Linked DNA regions of Homo sapiens: all the other regions are linked to region 2. The links come from fine-mapping of genetic effects on gene expression. A gene starts in region 2. Each other region holds a variant in brackets. All regions are shown on one strand. Distances are from middle to middle.

The links. PIP is the estimated chance that this variant, and not a neighbour inherited with it, causes the effect.
Region 1: its variant is the best candidate, but not a certain one, in a credible set for the expression of TOP3A in whole blood (INTERVAL, PIP 0.88).
Region 3: its variant is the best candidate, but not a certain one, in a credible set for the expression of TOP3A in thyroid (GTEx, PIP 0.63).

What each region holds. Positions count from the first base shown.
Region 1 is chr17:18,274,351-18,280,234 of GRCh38, forward strand. TOP3A (DNA topoisomerase III alpha) reads right to left here. Exons shown (of 19, transcript NM_004618.5): 18 at 3,325-4,007; 19 at 1-630. The coding sequence ends at 452. Among named protein-coding and RNA genes, the nearest start is that of MIEF2, 17 kb to the left of the region's middle. The variant C/CA (reference allele first, on the strand shown) is at 2,835.
Region 2 is chr17:18,311,450-18,317,358 of GRCh38, forward strand. It overlaps TOP3A (DNA topoisomerase III alpha), which reads right to left and starts at 3,545. Exons shown (of 19, transcript NM_004618.5): 1 at 3,150-3,545. The coding sequence starts at 3,329. It overlaps SMCR8 (SMCR8-C9orf72 complex subunit), which reads left to right and starts at 3,844. Exons shown (of 2, transcript NM_144775.3): 1 at 3,844-5,909. The coding sequence starts at 4,341. It also overlaps the pseudogene RPL7AP65 and the pseudogene RPL21P121. RefSeq lists enhancers at 2,594-3,117, 3,065-3,154, 3,165-3,514, 3,642-4,165, 3,855-3,904 and a silencer at 3,665-3,714.
Region 3 is chr17:18,226,761-18,232,717 of GRCh38, forward strand. LLGL1 (LLGL scribble cell polarity complex component 1) reads left to right here. Exons shown (of 23, transcript NM_004140.4): 2 at 3,181-3,278; 3 at 5,735-5,816; 4 at 5,912-5,957. Among named protein-coding and RNA genes, the nearest start is that of LLGL1, 4.1 kb to the left of the region's middle. RefSeq lists enhancers at 3,759-4,594, 4,595-5,428. The variant A/G (reference allele first, on the strand shown) is at 2,905.

The DNA of each region.
Region 1 (5,884 bases), 37 kb before region 2:
GTCCTTCTCAGGACGTCTATGAGAAGCCCTGGGCAGCCTGGACAGGGACTGCCCCATGAGTGCTGGTGGCTCACTTGGGGCTTTCTGCAGGTGAAGGAAGCAGCCCTGGGAGCTTCTTCCTTTGGCACACAGTGGGCTTCAGCTGGGACTGCACCAATCCTCTGCTAACAGCAACCATCCTTGGGGGGTCCGAGGGAGCAGCTGCGTGACTTTTCAGCAGTGGCTATGGTCACTCCTGAGGCCTGGGAAGAGGGTCACTGTCCAGCAGAGCTGGCCTGCTCCAGAGTGATCTGGACCTTGTGCCCCTTAACACAAGAAGGCCCGACTCCAAAGGCCAACACTGTCCTCTAAGTTTCCAGGACACTAAATGGCCACTTGGTCCTGGTTAACTCATTTCTAAACACAAAGGGGACAGGTCTGAGAAAGTGGCGTTCTCTACCCTACCCTGAGCTCATCTGTTCTGAGGACAAAAGGGACGGGTGTGTCCAGGCTGGTGGCAAAGGCTGCATTTCCGGGGTTTCTTTGCTGTGGACCCCATGTCTGAGGAACTGGCCCGGGGCCTTTTGCTTCTGGCTTCCGACTCCAGGGTTCTTCCTCTGTCTCCTGTCCAGGACGGGGCTCCAGAAGTCCCTGTCGGGAGAGTCAGGGGAGGGGTGAGGTTAGAACTGACATGCAGAAGTGGCAAGTCCTGAACACGGTGGCTCATGCCTGTAATCCCAGCACTTTAGGAAGCTGAGGGAGGAGGATTGCTTGAGCCCAGGAGTTCAAGATCAGCCTGGGCAACATGGTGAAACCTTGTCTTTAAAAAATGCAAAAATTAGCCAGGTGTGGTGTATGCCTGTGGTCACAGCTACTCGGGAGGATGCCTGAGCCTGGGAGGCTACAGTGAGCTGTGATCACACCACTGCACTCCAGCCTGGGCAACAGAGCAAGACCCTGTCTCAAAAAAAAAAAAAAAAAAAAAAAGAGCAGCAGACGATAAGGCTGAACCAACTTTTTTTTTTTTTTTTTTTTTTTTTGAGATGGAGTCTTCGCTCTGTCACCCAGGCTGGAGTGTGGAGTGCAGTGGCGTGATCTCCACTCACTGCAAGCTCCACCTCCCGGGTTCACGCCATTCTCCTGCCTCAGCCTCCCGAGTAGCTGGGACTACAGGCACCCGCCACCACGCCCGGCTACTTTATTTTTTGTATTTTTAGTAGAGACGGGTTTCATCATGTTAGCCAGGATGGTCTCGATCTCCTAACCTTGTGATCCGCCCGCCTTGGCCTCCCGAAGTGCTGGGATTACAGGCGTGAGCCACCGTGCCCGGCCTTTTTTTTTTGAGGTGGAGTCTGGCTCTGTCGCCTAGGCTGGAATGCAGTGGTGCAATCTTGGCTCACTGCAAGCTCCGCCTCCCGGGTTCACGCCATTGTCCTGTCTCAGCCTCCCGAGAGTAGCTGGGACTACAGGGACCGACCACCATGCCCGGCTAATTGTTTGTATTTTTAGTAGAGACGGGGTTTCACTGTGTTAGCCAGGATGGTCTCGATCTCCTGACCTCGTGATCCACCCGCCTCGGCCTCCCAAAGTGCTGGGATTACAGGCATGAGCCACCGCGCCCGACCGGCTGAATCAGTTTTTATACAGCCATGTACACCCCACCAGCCAGCCTCCCTTCACACTGTGTCCAACTCTGTAAGGTTGAGGTGCGATGTGCCTGCTGCCTTATGTTACCTGACACCTCTCCCTCAAGAATCCTAAGCTTTGGAGACATTGTCCCACACTCACTTGGTAAGTGGACTTTCATGCCGGCCCTTTTTACAGAGGCAGAAACCCAAGCAAGCTGGCCTGTGTGGTAGGGTGGGAAAGACAAGCAGCCTATGACCGGCAACCTGCGGCCCACCTCCATGCAGGAAAGTCCAGCTCTGGATCCCTTCCTGTCCCCTCAACAGGCCTTTCCAGACCAGCTGCTCATTTACCCAGGACAGTCAGTCAGCCAGCCTGGAGGTCAGATACCATGTCCTTCCAAGTGGGGAGACAAGAGGCCAGACTGCATCTCACTTCAAATGTGGGTCTCTCACTGCAATGGCCATCTCTGGGCCCCATTAGCACTGGTAGCCAGTTCCAAGTCCCACAGTTTTTACCAAACCTCTGGTTTCTTTCTGTGCATGCCGGGCTAGTGACACATGTGTAAGAATCATAGTCTGAGACTAAACTCCTTTCTAAAACAGGAACCCTATGAATGTAGGCAGGGACCATCTTGTTGAGCAAACTTGAGGCAGAGAGGCTAAGTCATTTGTTCAAGGTTATACTGCTGAGCTTTGGAACCAGATTTGCTCAACTCCAAAGCTCCCACTAGGCCTTTGGGTCATTCTCAGCTACTTAAGCTCTGTTGTGCACTGGAGCAGGAGGAACCATTCAAAGTGCCTCCACGTACACCATTCAACTTGATGCAATGTCCAGGTGCCACTTCTCATGACACCCAGTTCCCGGACATTGGCCCAAGCTGTGTCACCCTGGGCAGGTTCCTAAATATCATCGGGGTTGGCATCTTCATCTGAAGAAATGAGGCTGGGCCAGGCACGGTGGCTCACGCCTGTAATCCCAGCACTTTGAGAGGCCAAGGCAGGTGGATCACCTGAGGTGGAGTTCGAGACCAGCCTAACCAACAGGGTGAAACCCCCGTCTCTACTAAAAATACAAAATTAGCTGTGCGTGGTGGTGCATGCCTGTAATCCCAGCTACCTGGGAGGCTGAGGCAGGAGAATCATTTGAACCTGGGAGGTGGAAGTTGCAGTGAACCAAGATTGCACCATTGCACTCCAGTCTGGGCAACAAGAGCAAAACTCAGTCTC[C/CA]AAAAAAAAAAAAAAAAAAAAAGAAATGAGGCTGATGCTTATGGTCTGCCAAGGGTCACGACAGCTGCAAGGGCACATGGCCATGGGACTGGGAAGGCCTATGTACTCATCCTGGTGTCTGTTGCTATGGGACCCTGAGCAATACCCACTTCATGTGTCTGGGTCTCACCTTTCTCACTTATAAGTAAAATTGTGATCATAATGCTTACCCAATGAGGATGGAAGATGCACAGGAAGTATACTTAGCATAGTGCCAGGCATAGGGCAAGTGACACCATTACTGGTAGCTACCCTTTAATTTGGAATGAGGACTGTACAATTATCACCTTGCTGAAAGTGATCAAGTGAGGAAAAGTGAGGTGCAAGGCAGCCCAGGTGCCCCTCCCAATCCCACCATGACCCTGCCTTGCCTTCTTTCTGCTGTCCCCAGTCTCTGAGGTAAACACCTGAAAACTGAAGGCAGGGATTCCCATGCCCCTCCCTGCCTCACCTGGAGCGGTGTTCTCATCGACCCACTGGAAAAAGCCACACTGCTGCTCTCTCGGCTTGGCACATGTGTGGAACTGGCGCCCCTTGTTGGGTCCATCCTTCTGCACAGTCCGTGTGACGGAGGGCTGGCTGCAAAGGCAGGATGTGCCACTACCACTGCCATCACCAGGGTTGCCAAACCCACCTAGGTGGATCCCTGGGCCTGGTGGGCATCCCAGGGAGGCGCCCAGGGGTCTATATGCCAAGGCAGGAGGCCCTCCTGCTCCCGGATTGGGGCTGTCTGCCCACAGGAAGAAGTTGCAGCTACCTCCGTTGCACTTAAAGAACTGCCGGCCCCGGTTGGGGCCCTCCTTACGGACAGTGAGCAGCACAGCCTCCTGGCCACAGTTGCAGGTCACAGAATTGCTTTCACCAGCAGCCGTGGGTGGTGGGAGGGTCTGGGCCAGAGCCTTTGAGGACCCAGTCTGTCTGCTGTCAGCAGGCTGGGGGTGCTGGCTGTTGTCCATCCTGTTCAGGGACTGGTTAGCCTGCAGGCGGCCAGAGGGCTGGCTAGCCCTGGGGGGGCCCCCTGAAAATCTCAGGTCCAGGATCTCCCTCAGGGTGTCGTCGCATCCGCCGATGCAGCAAACAAACTCCAGAGGCATGGTCGGGGGAAGGCTACCGCGCTTAAACTTTAACTTTAACCTAGTGAGGCCAGAAGATGAGAAAAAACATTAACAACCAGATGCCAGCTTCTCCTTAGTCCAGTGAGGGCTGCTTTAGCCCTAGGCCTCTCTCCACCATTCCTTATGCATCAGGAAGCCCACACAAGTCCCCTGTGAGGCCCTCTATCAGCCCACCACAAGCCCCCACCAGTCATCACAGGAGTGGACAGTGGGAAACAGTGCAGATGAAATCTAAGATCCCAGTAATTCACTAAAATAAAAACACCTCTGAGAAGTCCCATGTCTCTGTATCAGCAGTTCTCCAAGTGTGGTTCCAGGGTGCCTGAGCCCTTTCAAGGAGAGTGCAAAACTCTTTTATAGGCCAGGTGTGGTGGCTCAAACCTGTAATCCCAGCACTTTGGGAGGCTGAGGCGGGCGGATCACAAAATCAAGAGATTGAGACCATCCTGACCAACATGGTGAAACCCCATCTCTACCAAAAATACAAAAATTAGCTGGGCATGGTGGCACGCGCCTGTAGTCCCAGCTACTCGGGAGGCTGAGGCAGGAGAACCTCTTGAACCTGGGAGTCAGAGGTTGCAGTGAGCCAAGATTGTGCCACTGCACTCCAGCCTGGTGACAGAGCAAGACTCTGTCTCAAAAAAAATTCTAAGAGGTTATGTCTATTTTGCTCTTATTCTTCCATGTGTATACAACGGAGTTTCCTGGAGGTTCCAGCACATGCAATGACTCAGCAGGCTGACTGCAGAAGCAGATACGGGAATCCAGCTCTCTTCTATTAAGCCAGACATACAAATTGCAAAATGTAAAACAATGTCATTAATGTCATTATTATTTTGCTTTTGAAAATAGGTATTTTATTACCCTAAAAAACAAGTTATTTACAGTAGTATGCAATGCATTTACTAGAAATAAATTATTAAAATTTTTTTTTTTGAGACAGAGTATCATTCTGTCGCCCAGGCTGGTGTGCAGTGGTGCAATCTCGGCTCACTGAAAGTTCTGCCTCCTGGGTTCACGCCATTCTCCTGCCTCAGCCTGCCGAGTAGCTGGGACTACAGGCGCCCACCAGTACGCCTGGCTGATTTTTTGTATTTTTAGTAGAGACGGGGTTTCACCATGTTAGCCAGGATGGTCTCGATCTCCTGACCTCGTGATCCACCCACCTCGGCCTCCCAAAGTGTTGGGATTACAGGCGTGAGCCACCACGCCTGGCCATTTTTTGTATTTTTAGTAGAGACAGTGTCTCACCATGTTAGCCAGGATGGTCTCGATCTCCTGTCCTCGTGATCCGCCTGTCTCGGCCTCCCAAAATGCTGGGATTACAGGCCTGAGCCACCAGGCTCGGCCTATTCATTTATTTCTAGAGACAGGGTCTGGCTCTGTCATTCCAGGCTGGAGAGCAGTGGTGAAATCATGGCTCACTACAGCCTAGACCTCTAGGATCAAGCGATCCTCCTGCCTCAGCCTCCTGACCAGCTTGGCCTATAGGCATATGTCACCACATCTGGCTAATTTAAAATTTTTTTTGGCCAGGTGCAGTGGCTCACATCTATAATCCCAGCACTTTGGGAGGCCAAGGTGGGTGGATCACTTGGGGCCAGGAGTTCGAGACCAGCCTGGCCAACATGGTGAAACCCTGTCTCTACTAAAAATACAAAAAGTGGTCAGGCATAGTGGTGCATGCCTGTAATCCCAGCTACTCAGGACGCTGAGGCAGAAGAATCACTTCAACCCAGAAGGCGGAGGTTGCAGTGAGTCAAGACTGCGCCACTGCACTTCAGCCTGGGCAACCCAGCGAGACTGTCTTAAAAAAAATTTTTTTTTAAATAAAAATTTTTTTTTTTAAAGAGATGGGGTCTTGCTACGTAGCCCAAGCTTGGATGTTGTATTTAA
Region 2 (5,909 bases):
CACCTGGCTAATTTTTGTATTTTTAGTAGAGATGGGGTTTTGCCATGTTGGCCAGGCTGGTCTTGAACTCACGACCTCAGGTGGTCTGCCCGCTTGAGCCTCCCCAACTGCTGGGATTACAGGCATGAGCCGCTGCGCTCAGCCCAAGTATTAATATTTATTGAAAGTTTCCTGCATTCCAGACACCATATTAGGCGTTAGGACATAGCAATTAACAAAATATAATCACTGTCCTTTGGAGTTTAGAGTCCAAGGAGAGGCAGTGACAAAAATCAAATAAATGATCGCACATCCCATTATTTAACTGTAACTAGTAGATGCCTTTCAAGTAGAATAGAGTGCTATGACAGCATGTCAGTAAGGGTCTCTGACCTAGTGTGGGGGAACAGGTGGTGAGGGAAGGATTCCTTGAAGATGAGACATTTCAGCAGCCTCTCTCCTCTAGCCGCCCCAGATGCCAAAAGGAAAGATGGCCAAGGGGAAGAAGTGGCCCTGGCCCCTGTTGTCATGGAGCAGCAGTAGGCCAAAAAGGTGGTAAATCCCATTTGAGAAAAGCCCTAATAATTTTGGCATTGGATATCTAGCCTAAGGGCCTCACCCACTTTGTCAAATAGTCCCGCTATAAATGGCTGCTGCGGCAGAGCCGCTGTACTCTATAAGTGGCTGATGTGCCACCTGGGATTGACCAGTTCACCCAGGCCTCAGACTACCAAACTTAAGCTACTCAATTGCTTAAGCTGGCCCACAGTACAGACAAGAGACAGAGCAAGGGATGAGATCGAAACCGTTGGCCCAGGCTGAGAAGAAAGCTTCCAGCAAAGGGGATGTCGCTACTAAGAGACCACCTACACTTCGAGCAGGGGTTGACACCGTCACCAACTTGGTAGAGAGCATGAAGGGTCAGCTGGTGGTGGATCCCATTGAGCTGGTTGTCTTCCTGCCTGTGCTGTGTCCTAAGATGGGGATTCTCTACTGCACCGTCAAGACTGTGGTGTCAAATTCCACAGGAAGACCTGCACCACTGTCACCTTCACAAAGGTTAACTTTCTGGTAGACAAAGGAGCTCTGGCTAAGCTGGTGGGACAAATTACAACGACATATGAGATCTGCTGTCACTGGGGAGGCAATGCCCTGGGTCCAAAATCTGTAGCTTGCATTACCAACCTAGAAAAGGCAAAGGCTAAAGAATTTGCCACTAAACTGGGTTAAGTACACACTGTTGTGTTTTCTGTACATAAAAATAAAAATTCTCTTTCCAAGAAAAGTCTTTCCTTTTGGCTGGAACTGCCATCTTGGAGTAATTTGCCAAAATGACGAACACAAAGGAAAAGAGGACGAGGCATCTGATGTATGTTCTCCTGGCCTTATAGAAAACATGGAGTTCGAGCTGGGCACGGTGGCTCACGCCTGTAACCCTAACACTTTGGGAGGCTAAGGCGGGTGGCTCACCTGAAGTCAGGAGTTCAAGACCATCCTGGCCAACACAGTGAAACTACTAAAAATACAAAAAATTAGCTGGGCATGGTGACAGGCACCTGTAATCCCAGCTACTAGGGAGGCTGAGGCAGGAGAATCGCTTGAACCCGGGAGGCGGAGGTTGCAGTGAGCTGAGATCACACCATTGCACTCCAGGCTGGGCAACAAGAGCAAAGCTCCATCTCAAAACAAACAAACAAAACAAAACAAAAATATGGAGTTTCTCTGGCCACAGACACCAGAATCTACAATGAAGGTGATATTGAGGACTTCGTGAGAATGCATACTGTTCAAAAGGGAATGACCCACAAATGTTACATGGCAGAACTGGAAAAGTCTATGTTACCCAGCATGCTGTTGGCACTGCTGCGAACAAGGGCTAGATTCTTGCCCAAAGAATTAATGTTTCTATTGAGCATATTAAGCACTCTAAGAACCAAGATCTTTCCTGAAATGTGTGAAGGAAAATGATCAAAAAAGAAGCAAGTCAAAGAGAAAGGGTTCACCTGAAGTGCCAGCCTGTTCCATTGAGGGAAGTACACTTTGTGAGAACCAATGGAAAAGAGCCTGAGCCGCTGGAACCTATTCCCTATGGATTCATGGTATGATAGGGTAAAAATAGATAAATACAAGACCTCTGGATTGCTTAAAAAAAAAAAAAAAAAAGGGAGAGAGAGAGAATGAATTCAGCAGAGCCTTGAAGGATAAGAAGTTAGGCGTAGGAGAACCATTTTTCAATGTCTACTTCATTGTCTAGAAGTAGACAAACCTTGGGGCTGGTCACCAGGACTTCTAGCACTGGAAACAGGTAAAGCTGTCAGCCAGCATTCACACAACCCTGGCTCCACTCCCACTATCCTTGATCTGGAAACAGGTCTTAGGACCCTGGGAACTAAAGAAAAATGAGCAGGGAACTTCCACCCATGCTCTTAGAAAAGTTCTCCAGAAAACCATTTCAGGATCTACTTTTGTTATCTGAGATATTTTCCTGGACAGCTCTTTATGTCTCCCGTGGCACCTCCTTTATGAAACTTTTTCTTATCCTCCCTTGCGTTTGTGCCTCCCGTGTGTGTAGAACACATTCTTACCACTTACCTCTCTCAGAATCAGTTCATTCGGGTAGGAACAGGGCTGACTTCAAATCTAATCCCCAAACCTTACCGTGTTGCTGTAAGTGTGCACTGTGAGGCTGGAAAGTCACAAGGGCTGTAGAATGCAGTGGCTGTGGCACAGGATGGGGAGGGCTAGGTTGGCTGGGGAACGATCGGGCAGGGCTTGAATGCCAAGTTAAGGGAATCTGGTCAGTAGTTCCCAAATGAATTTCTGAATCTCTAGGGAAAAACAGTAAAATACACACTTCCCCAGCCTCACACAAGACCCGAAGGGCAGCCAGCGCCCGAGGCGATTCCGAGAATCAGACAAGTTTGGGAACCTGCTAAGCGCAAGCAAAACAAAAGGTTTCCACGCAAATGAGTGAGATGTATCAACTACGTTTTAAAATGCACTCCAGTCCGAGAGCAGACAGGAGGCCACTGCAATAATCCAGACGAGGGGCAGTGAGGCCTGAGAAATGGGAGATAATCGCCTTCATCTCGATTCTTGGCGCCCACCACGCTGTCCCGCTCGGTGGGCCTCCCTTAAGGCACGCAGCTGATCGGAACGCGCTTTCTTACCCGCCTCATGCGACCGTTTGACAGCAGGTCGGCGATCCCCTTGGCCGCGTCGTTTTTTTCGGCCACACAGAGGACTTTCCGCACGCCTCGGAGGGCCATCTCCATGGCGGCGCGGGAAAAGGCACGGTCTTCGGGCCGTCGCAGCCACCGGAGCGCGTAGCGGGCGACAGGAAAGATCATCCTCAGACCTCGCGCCCGGAGCCGCTCCCCGGCTGCCGGCGCATCCTGGGGAAGCCAGAGATGAGGCTCAAATGGCGCCCACCGAAAGGGAACCAGAGCCTCGCTTCGGTCACGTCCCCACCAGCCTGCTGGCCTTTGGAGCTTCAGTCACTGAGCCTTTCCCGTGCCGCAGCCGCCGCCTCAGCACCGAATCCAGTATCTTGGCGTGGAACTTCCGCCCGCCTTCTCCAGCTACTTCCGCCAGGCGCGCGCCCCACAGCGACCTGGAACTACAACTCCCAGACTGTCCCGCGCCCCTCGTCCAAGCACGTTCCCCTCTGCCACCTTCCCGCCGCCCCCGTCTCACTCCGCCCCTCTTTCCCCTCCTTCCCGGCAGTGGTTGGTTAATCGGACTCCTTCTTGCGGGGAGCCGCCAGACACTCCCATCCAAGGCCTCTTTCTCATGACTTTTTAATCTCCTGCTCGGAAGTCTACGAGGACGCTTCCGGGTCACGCGGCGCGGACACCAGGAGTCATGTGATGTCAAGATGGCGGCGCCGCGGTAGCAGGATCCGGGTTGTGGCGTCCTAGGAGCCGCGACGGTTTCTGCCCTCGGGCAGTGAGGGGCAGCAGCGCTTGGCTGACCCCTGCGGCGTCCCGTAGCCTCGCGTTAAGCCTTGTTCAGAGCGGGGGCTTTTGCTGTCGCAGTGGGTTCCGGAGAGTGCAGGTGATTTCGCAGCAGGTTTCTTGTGCTGGCCGCGCTCGCCGGACGAAGAAGAGAAGGGCAGTTGGGCCTGCGGCCTTGGCGTTCATGAGGCCTCAGAGAGCTCCGGAGGAGCTACAACTGTGAGGGGGCTGCTAGAGTTCTTCTCCTCGGGTGTGTGAGAAGCAGCCTAGGACCCCGGGTTCGGGGAGTCGCAAAGAAGGCCGTAAGGGCTTCACTTCCTTCTCCGGAGGCCTGCCTTCTGCGCGTCGATTAACACCGCATTCTTTCCCACTTCCTCTCAATGTTTTCTTCATATATCTGGAAATATGATCAGCGCCCCTGACGTAGTGGCCTTCACCAAAGAGGAAGAGTATGAAGAAGAGCCTTACAATGAGCCGGCCCTGCCTGAGGAGTACTCGGTGCCGCTCTTCCCCTTCGCCAGTCAGGGTGCTAACCCCTGGTCAAAACTGTCCGGGGCCAAGTTTTCGAGGGACTTCATTCTTATTTCCGAGTTCTCTGAGCAGGTGGGACCCCAACCCTTACTGACCATCCCCAATGACACCAAAGTTTTTGGCACTTTTGATCTCAATTACTTCTCCCTGCGTATCATGTCTGTGGATTACCAGGCTTCCTTCGTGGGCCATCCTCCTGGATCTGCCTACCCCAAGCTGAACTTCGTGGAGGACTCCAAGGTGGTGCTGGGAGATTCTAAGGAGGGCGCCTTTGCATACGTGCACCACCTTACCCTATACGACCTGGAGGCCCGTGGCTTCGTGAGGCCGTTTTGCATGGCTTATATCTCTGCAGACCAGCATAAAATCATGCAGCAGTTCCAGGAGCTTTCAGCCGAATTTTCCAGAGCTTCTGAGTGCTTGAAGACTGGCAACAGGAAGGCATTTGCTGGGGAACTTGAAAAAAAGCTGAAAGACTTGGATTACACCAGGACAGTGCTACACACAGAAACGGAGATCCAGAAGAAAGCCAACGACAAAGGCTTTTACTCATCTCAGGCAATTGAGAAAGCCAATGAACTGGCCAGTGTGGAGAAGTCCATCATTGAACATCAAGACCTGCTGAAGCAGATCCGCTCATACCCTCATCGGAAGTTGAAGGGGCATGATTTGTGTCCTGGTGAGATGGAGCACATCCAGGATCAGGCCAGCCAGGCATCCACTACCTCTAACCCTGATGAGTCTGCCGACACAGACCTTTACACCTGCAGACCAGCCTACACCCCAAAACTTATCAAAGCAAAGTCCACCAAGTGTTTTGACAAGAAGTTGAAGACCTTGGAGGAGCTCTGTGACACTGAATATTTCACCCAGACCCTGGCTCAGCTCAGCCACATTGAACACATGTTCAGAGGAGACCTGTGTTACCTCCTGACCAGTCAGATTGATAGAGCACTTCTAAAACAACAGCATATAACAAACTTTCTCTTTGAAGACTTTGTGGAGGTCGATGACAGGATGGTGGAGAAACAAGAAAGCATACCCTCTAAGCCCAGTCAAGACAGGCCGCCTTCCAGTTCTCTAGAAGAATGCCCAATTCCTAAAGTGTTAATTAGTGTTGGTTCTTACAAGTCCAGTGTGGAGTCTGTGTTGATCAAGATGGAGCAGGAACTGGGAGATGAGGAGTACAAGGAAGTGGAAGTGACTGAGTTGAGCAGTTTCGACCCCCAGGAAAACTTGGACTACCTGGATATGGATATGAAAGGGAGTATCAGCAGTGGTGAAAGTATTGAAGTTTTGGGCACGGAGAAATCCACCTCCGTGCTTTCTAAATCTGACAGCCAGGCAAGCCTCACAGTACCATTGAGCCCCCAGGTGGTCCGGAGCAAAGCAGTCAGCCACAGGACCATCAGCGAGGACAGTATTGAAGTCCTCAGTACCTGC
Region 3 (5,957 bases), 85 kb before region 2:
CCCCGCCTCCCTCTGCACTGATGTTAGAGCAGGGCCTCAGCCCACTCCTGGCTCACTGCTCTGGGGACGTTGGTTTTGTCCTCATTCTTACCCCAGAGCCCACTGATGGCAGAGCCTCTCAGTGCTCTTCGAAATTAGAGTTATCTTCAAAATACAGGTGAGAAAATTGAGGTTCTGAGAGGGGTGACGGCTTGCCCGGAGTCAGAGTGAGCTGCACCAATATCTTTCTTGAGTTCTTGTGTCAGTGGGGTTGGATTTTAGCCTTGAGGGGCAGGGATTTTTCCAAGGGGCTGCTGTGGTCCTGGGCCAGTGTTGTGCCAGGCGCCCTGGGCTGCCTTGAGGAGACACTTGTCTTGGAGGAGGCTCTGGGACGGCTGGACCTGGAGTAGTGGAGGCACTGGGATGTCTCAGGGTTTCCCTGCCTAGGTCTGCAGTGATTGCCGATGAGAGCTGCCAGGACCCTCACACGGTGGCTGAGAACCTGCTAGGAACCTGAGAGGGGCCCAGAAGGGAAGCTGGTGCTCCGTGGTCCCCAGATGGCACCTATTTTCTGTGCCGGGGAGGCTGTGAGGGTGAGGTGAGAGGAGAATGGCCCTTCAGGGAAAGGCAGCAACAGGCACAGGGCTAAATGTCACTTTTTTTTTTTTGAAATGGGGTCTCACTCTCACCCAGGCTGGAGTGCAGTGGCACAATCACAGTCCACTGCAGCCTCACAACTCCCTGGCTCAGGTGATCCTCCCATCTCAGCCTCCTGAAGCTGGGACTACAGGCTCGTGTCACCATGCCCGGCTAGTTTTTGTATTTTTTGTAGAGATGGGGTTTCACCATGTTGCCCAGGCTGGTCTCGAACTCCTGGGTTCAAGCTATCTATCCATCCATGTTGGCTTCCCAAAGTGCTAGGATTACAGACATGAGCTGCCATGCCTGGCCTAAATGTCATTTCTTCAGCCAGTGAATTGGGGTGTGCAGTGGGGGCTGGAGACAGATGGGGGTGAAGCTCAGCCCACTCTGGCTAGCCTTGGGGTGGCGGAAAGTAAGGGCCCTCCGCTGAGGATGAAGCGTGGGCAGCAGTGGTGGAAAGTGGGGTGGTCTTGGGGAAGGGACTTAGTCACCTAAGTGGGTAATAGGTGATCGCTAGGGAATAGGCCCCTGATTCCTGAGCTTAGGGGGTGGGAGACAGGTCAGGAGTGAGCAGGGACTTTGGACTCTGAGTCTTGGGTTCAAATCCCAGTCCAGCCCACACATCGCCTGTGGAATGTGCCTTCTCTGTTAATACTGAGCCCCACTGTGTGTGAGGTCTCCAAGGTGCTGGGGACAACAGTAGTTACCAAAAAGGACAAATACCTGTTAACTCAGGTGGCTGATATAGTTGTGCAGGAGACAGTGAAAAGCCAAAACAAAAAAGTAAAATAGACTGTAGTTGGGATGGTAGCCAGTGCTGTGGATCAAATAAAGTAGGGCGAGGGGGTGAGAGGTGTGGCCAGGGCGGCTGCTGCAGCCAGGGTGGCCTTGGGAGGCTTCTCTGAGGAGATTACTCCTGAGCGACAGGAAGTGCTGGAGGAAGTGCGTTCCAGGCAGAGGGGCAGTAGGTGCAAAGGCCCTGAGGCACAAGCCTCCCTTAGCTGGGAGCCCCAGGAGGATCCTGAGCAGGGGAGGGACAAGGATCTGGCTGTGGCTTTCATAGGATCCCTCTGGCCTCTGTGGGAACAGACTGTAGTGAGTACCAATCCAGGCACGTGACGGTGGGGCCTGGAGCAGGGAGGGAGGTGACTTCTGTGTGTTTTGAAACTGAGTTGATGGGGCTCAGAAATGGACTGGACGTGGGGTATGAGGGAAGCAGATGCTGGACAGTGCATGTAACCTCCTTTCCTCGTTTGTAAAATGGGAAGGCTGTGGGGATTTGCGATGCAGTGTCCCGTCTCTGGACCCTGGTTGTAGCGAGGGACTGGCTAGACAAGGTCAGGTGCAGCAAGGGCGTGGTATTATTGGTGGGAGAGAGAAGCCCCAGCCAAATCGCCAACTCTGTCCTTAGGTGGGCTTACTGTCCCAAGGGCCCAGATGAGAGACTGAAGCTTGGAGAGTACTGAGTCTTGGAGAGTACTGTGACTTGCCCAAGGCCAGACAGCTAGGCCGTGACCAAACCAGCTGCCCAGAGGGCTCAGTCCCCACCTGGATGGGCAGAGGCAGGCAGGGAGGGAGGTTCGCGTTACAGGCTGGGAACTGGGGTTTCTTACAAATGTGCATCTTCCTGAGGCAGTGGGTCAGGAATTACCAGTGGTAAAAGTGAAAAATAAATAACAACAACAAGATAAAAGGAGTTACCAGTGGCCCACGTGGGTGTCCTGCACTGGTGTTCAGGATGGGGCTGGAGCTCAGCTGTGCAGGCTTCCCAGGGAGGGCACAGCCAGGCCAAAGACAGGAGACTGGTGCAGAAAGGGTGTGCTGTGAAAGGGGCAGGGGAGCGGGTGGGGAGCTGTTTCATCGACACTCTGGGCACACAGACCCCCTTAACACCATCTCCGCCCCTGATGGTTATGGGAGTCATGTTGCCCAGCTGTTGGCAGGTGGGGAGGTGGGAGGATGCCTTCGGGGTCCAGGCAGAAAGCTACCCCTCTCTGGGCCTCTGTCTCCCTGTGTCTGGGAGGAGTCAAAAGCCTCTGCCTAGCTGATCCTGGATGTTGTCCCTTGACCTCTGACCTCCACTCAGGCCTGTGTTTGGGGAGTGTCATGGTCATCTTGCGGGACTCCTCCGCAAGCTTTAGTCTGTGCCTCTAAAAATGGGGTGCAGAGCCCTTCATGGAGCAGGTGGGGCCTCATCAGTGCCTGCACCTCTGTGAGCCTTGCTTCACCTGTTTGTTGCTGGAGCCTCCATGCAGTGGGGCCCACATGAGCCTGTGTGCATTG[A/G]GGGGCACAGGGGCTTGGCAAAGGGCGGGCCTCTGTGGACTATGCACGCGGTACAGTCATGGTGGAGGCTAGGGGTTTAGCCACCTCCCCACCAACTGGAGGCATGATAACCCATTTCACAGTTGAGGACGCTGAGGCACAGAGCAAGTAGACCTGCCTCCTACCCCCAGTGTGTCAGCTGCAGACCCTGGAGGCTGCCTTGGGGTGGGCCTCAGGGTGGGCCATGGCAGAGGTGCCTGGGAGTGCTTACCCCCAGCAGCCCTCCCCTCCTTGCAGACTGTGGAGCATGGCTTCCCCAATCAGCCCAGCGCCCTGGCCTTCGACCCGGAACTTCGCATCATGGCCATCGGCACCAGGTCTGGGGCTGTCAAGATGTATCCTTTGCAGGACAGGTGTTCAGGGTCTGTTCAGGACCACCTGCCTGTAGTTCCCTGTGCTCTGGGGTCCCAGTCTTGGCAGTGTCCAGCTCGAGAGGAGGACAGAGGTGCTCTGATGGGCAGTAGTGGGGGCTTCTGCGGAGGTTGGCGTGGCTTCTGTACCTGAGACAACTGTGCAGAGATGATGGGGTCCTTTTGCTGAGAGACGGGTGGTGGGGGGTCAGTTTGCAGTAGCACAGCTGTCCCTTGCTACGTGTCAGCCAGCCAGTTACCTAGGCGACCCTGCCATCGTCCCAGCAACTCTGGGGAGGCCAGGCAGAAGGCTGGGCTATGATACCCATGGAGGGTGGCAGGTGGGCTGGGGGCCCTGGTGAGCTGATGCACACATGTGTGAATGTGAAGACACATGTGTTCAGCAAAGGGGCCTGGGGGCAGTGCCAGGCTCGGCATGGTGAGCACAGCACGGCCCCCACCTGGATACTGGCTGCTGCACAATGGGCTGTGTGAGCCACACAAAGCGGGCATTTTCCCTGCAGGCCTGGGGTGGGGGTGGGGGCAGGCCGGCAGCTCAGTGTCTCCTTGCCAGCCCTGGAGAATCCCACCCCAACTGCTCTTGGGGAAGCCGAGGTGCCAGGGTCTGGCTGATGGCGGCTTGGTGAGGGGTGCTGACCCCTACCCCTCCTGTGTGGCCTTCTGGGTTTCAGTATCCTGGTTTCAGACATCAGTTCCCAGAAAATGTGTCAGTGCTGGGAAAGGGGAGGGTGTGGGATGGGGGTCTCCTCACCCCAGGACTGGGGGCACTGATCAGGCAGGGATGGGACTCTGAGCCTGTGGTTTGTGAGCTCTTTGCCTACTCTGGGGAGTGTGGATGGGCTGAGATGTCCCCTTCTCTCCCATGGCCCCAGCGGCCTCTGTTGGTGAGTGTGGCAGTGCTCTGGGCCCCACATGCTCCGCTGCCTGGCCTGCTGCTCCCACTCCTGTGGGTGCTGCGCTGCGTGCGCACATGTGTCCCTGCAGCCTTCAGGTGTCCCTCCTGTGTTGGGGTCTCCAGTGCACTTGTCCTCAGGCTCAAAAAGAACCTGAAGTGCAGATGAGGAGACTGAGCCTCAGAAAGGAGGCTGGAGCCCGGGGTCCTCTTCCCTTTTTCCCCTGACTGCCACTGCCTGGAGCCCCTTGGGTTGGGAAACTGAGGCTGGAGAGGGCCAGCCCTGGTCACTAGAAGCTGCCCCTCCCCCTGCCAGGCCAGCCCCATCTCCTTGACGACCCTGGTTCCCGCCCAGCTGCTCCTGTCCCCTCTTTTGTCCCTTCTTCGGAGTTTCTCGCCAGGCTCCTGTAGGGAATCTGAGCTCAAGCTCCAGGCAACGGCTCCTGTGTTGTCACCGGGGCAACGTTGCTGACTCCTCCCTGCACCCTCTGTCATGGGGCCCCCTCAGGCCCTGCTGTCCACCATCAGCCCTGGAGTTGCCGGGACTCAGGCACTGACACTGGGCACTTCAAGCAGGTCATCCACCCCCTCCAAGTCTGTGTGCTCATCTGTGAAATGGGCAGGCTGGAGTCTCTCCTCCCTCATGATGGCAGTTGTTGGCTGCCTGCTTTGGAGGGAGGTGGGTTTTTTTTGTTTTGTTTTGTTTTTTTGAGATGGAGTCTTGCTCTTTGTTGCCCAGGCTGGAGTGCAGTCGCACAGTTTTGGCTCACTGCAACCTTTGCCTCCCGGGTTCAAGCAGTTCTCTGCCTCAGCCTCCCAAATAGCTGGGATTACAGGTGCCTGCCAGCATGCCCGGCTAATTTTTGCGTTTTTAGTAGAGACGAGGTTTCACCATCTTGGCCAGGCTGGTCCTCAACTCCTGACCTTGTGATCTACCTGCCTCGGCCTCCCAAAGTGCTGGGATTACAGGAGCGAGCCACCGTGCCCAGAGGAGGTGGGTTTTCTTACCCATGGCTGAAGTTTGGCCTGAAGCTGTGGGAAAAGGCAGCCTGGACTCTTCTGCCCCCTGGCTTTCTTGTCCAGGCCTGGCCTTGCACCTCTGGCCTGCCTGATCCCATCCGGCAAGGCGCAGCTCCCAGAACCCATAGACACACGGAGCTGAAGTGGAGCGGAGCCCCATCCTCTCACCAGGCTGAGGCCAAGCCTGCTGGGTGTGTTTATTCTCACTTGATCTGCAACAGTCCTGTAAAGTGGGAGTCACTGGCCCAATTTACGGGAAGTGAAGGTCCTATAGCAGCACCTGACTTGCAGGAGTGAGTGGAGCCTGCACACTGATCTTGGGGATACTGTAGGGGTGCAGAGTGGGAGCTTTAGGGAGGGGGCCTCCGTTCTTCAGGGAGGACTCCTGGATGGTCAGGCCCATGCCGGGGCCCACTGGAATAGTCCGGGTCAAGGAGGAGCCTTGGGTGTCTTCCTCACTGTGGTTTGCTGGTCTATGCCTATTTCCACCTTGACCTGCCACCCTCAGCTATGGTGCACCTGGCGTGGAGTTCACAGGCCTGCACCGGGATGCAGCCACTGTCACACAGATGCACTTCTTGACCGGCCAGGTGAGCCTCTGCTTCCCACTAGCCAGCTCCCTGTGGCCCCCATATCTACTCATCCCCCTAGGCCAGCCTAGTTTTCATCTCTGCTCACACACCAGGGCCGCCTCCTGTCCCTGCTTGATGACAGCAGTCTGCATCTCTGGG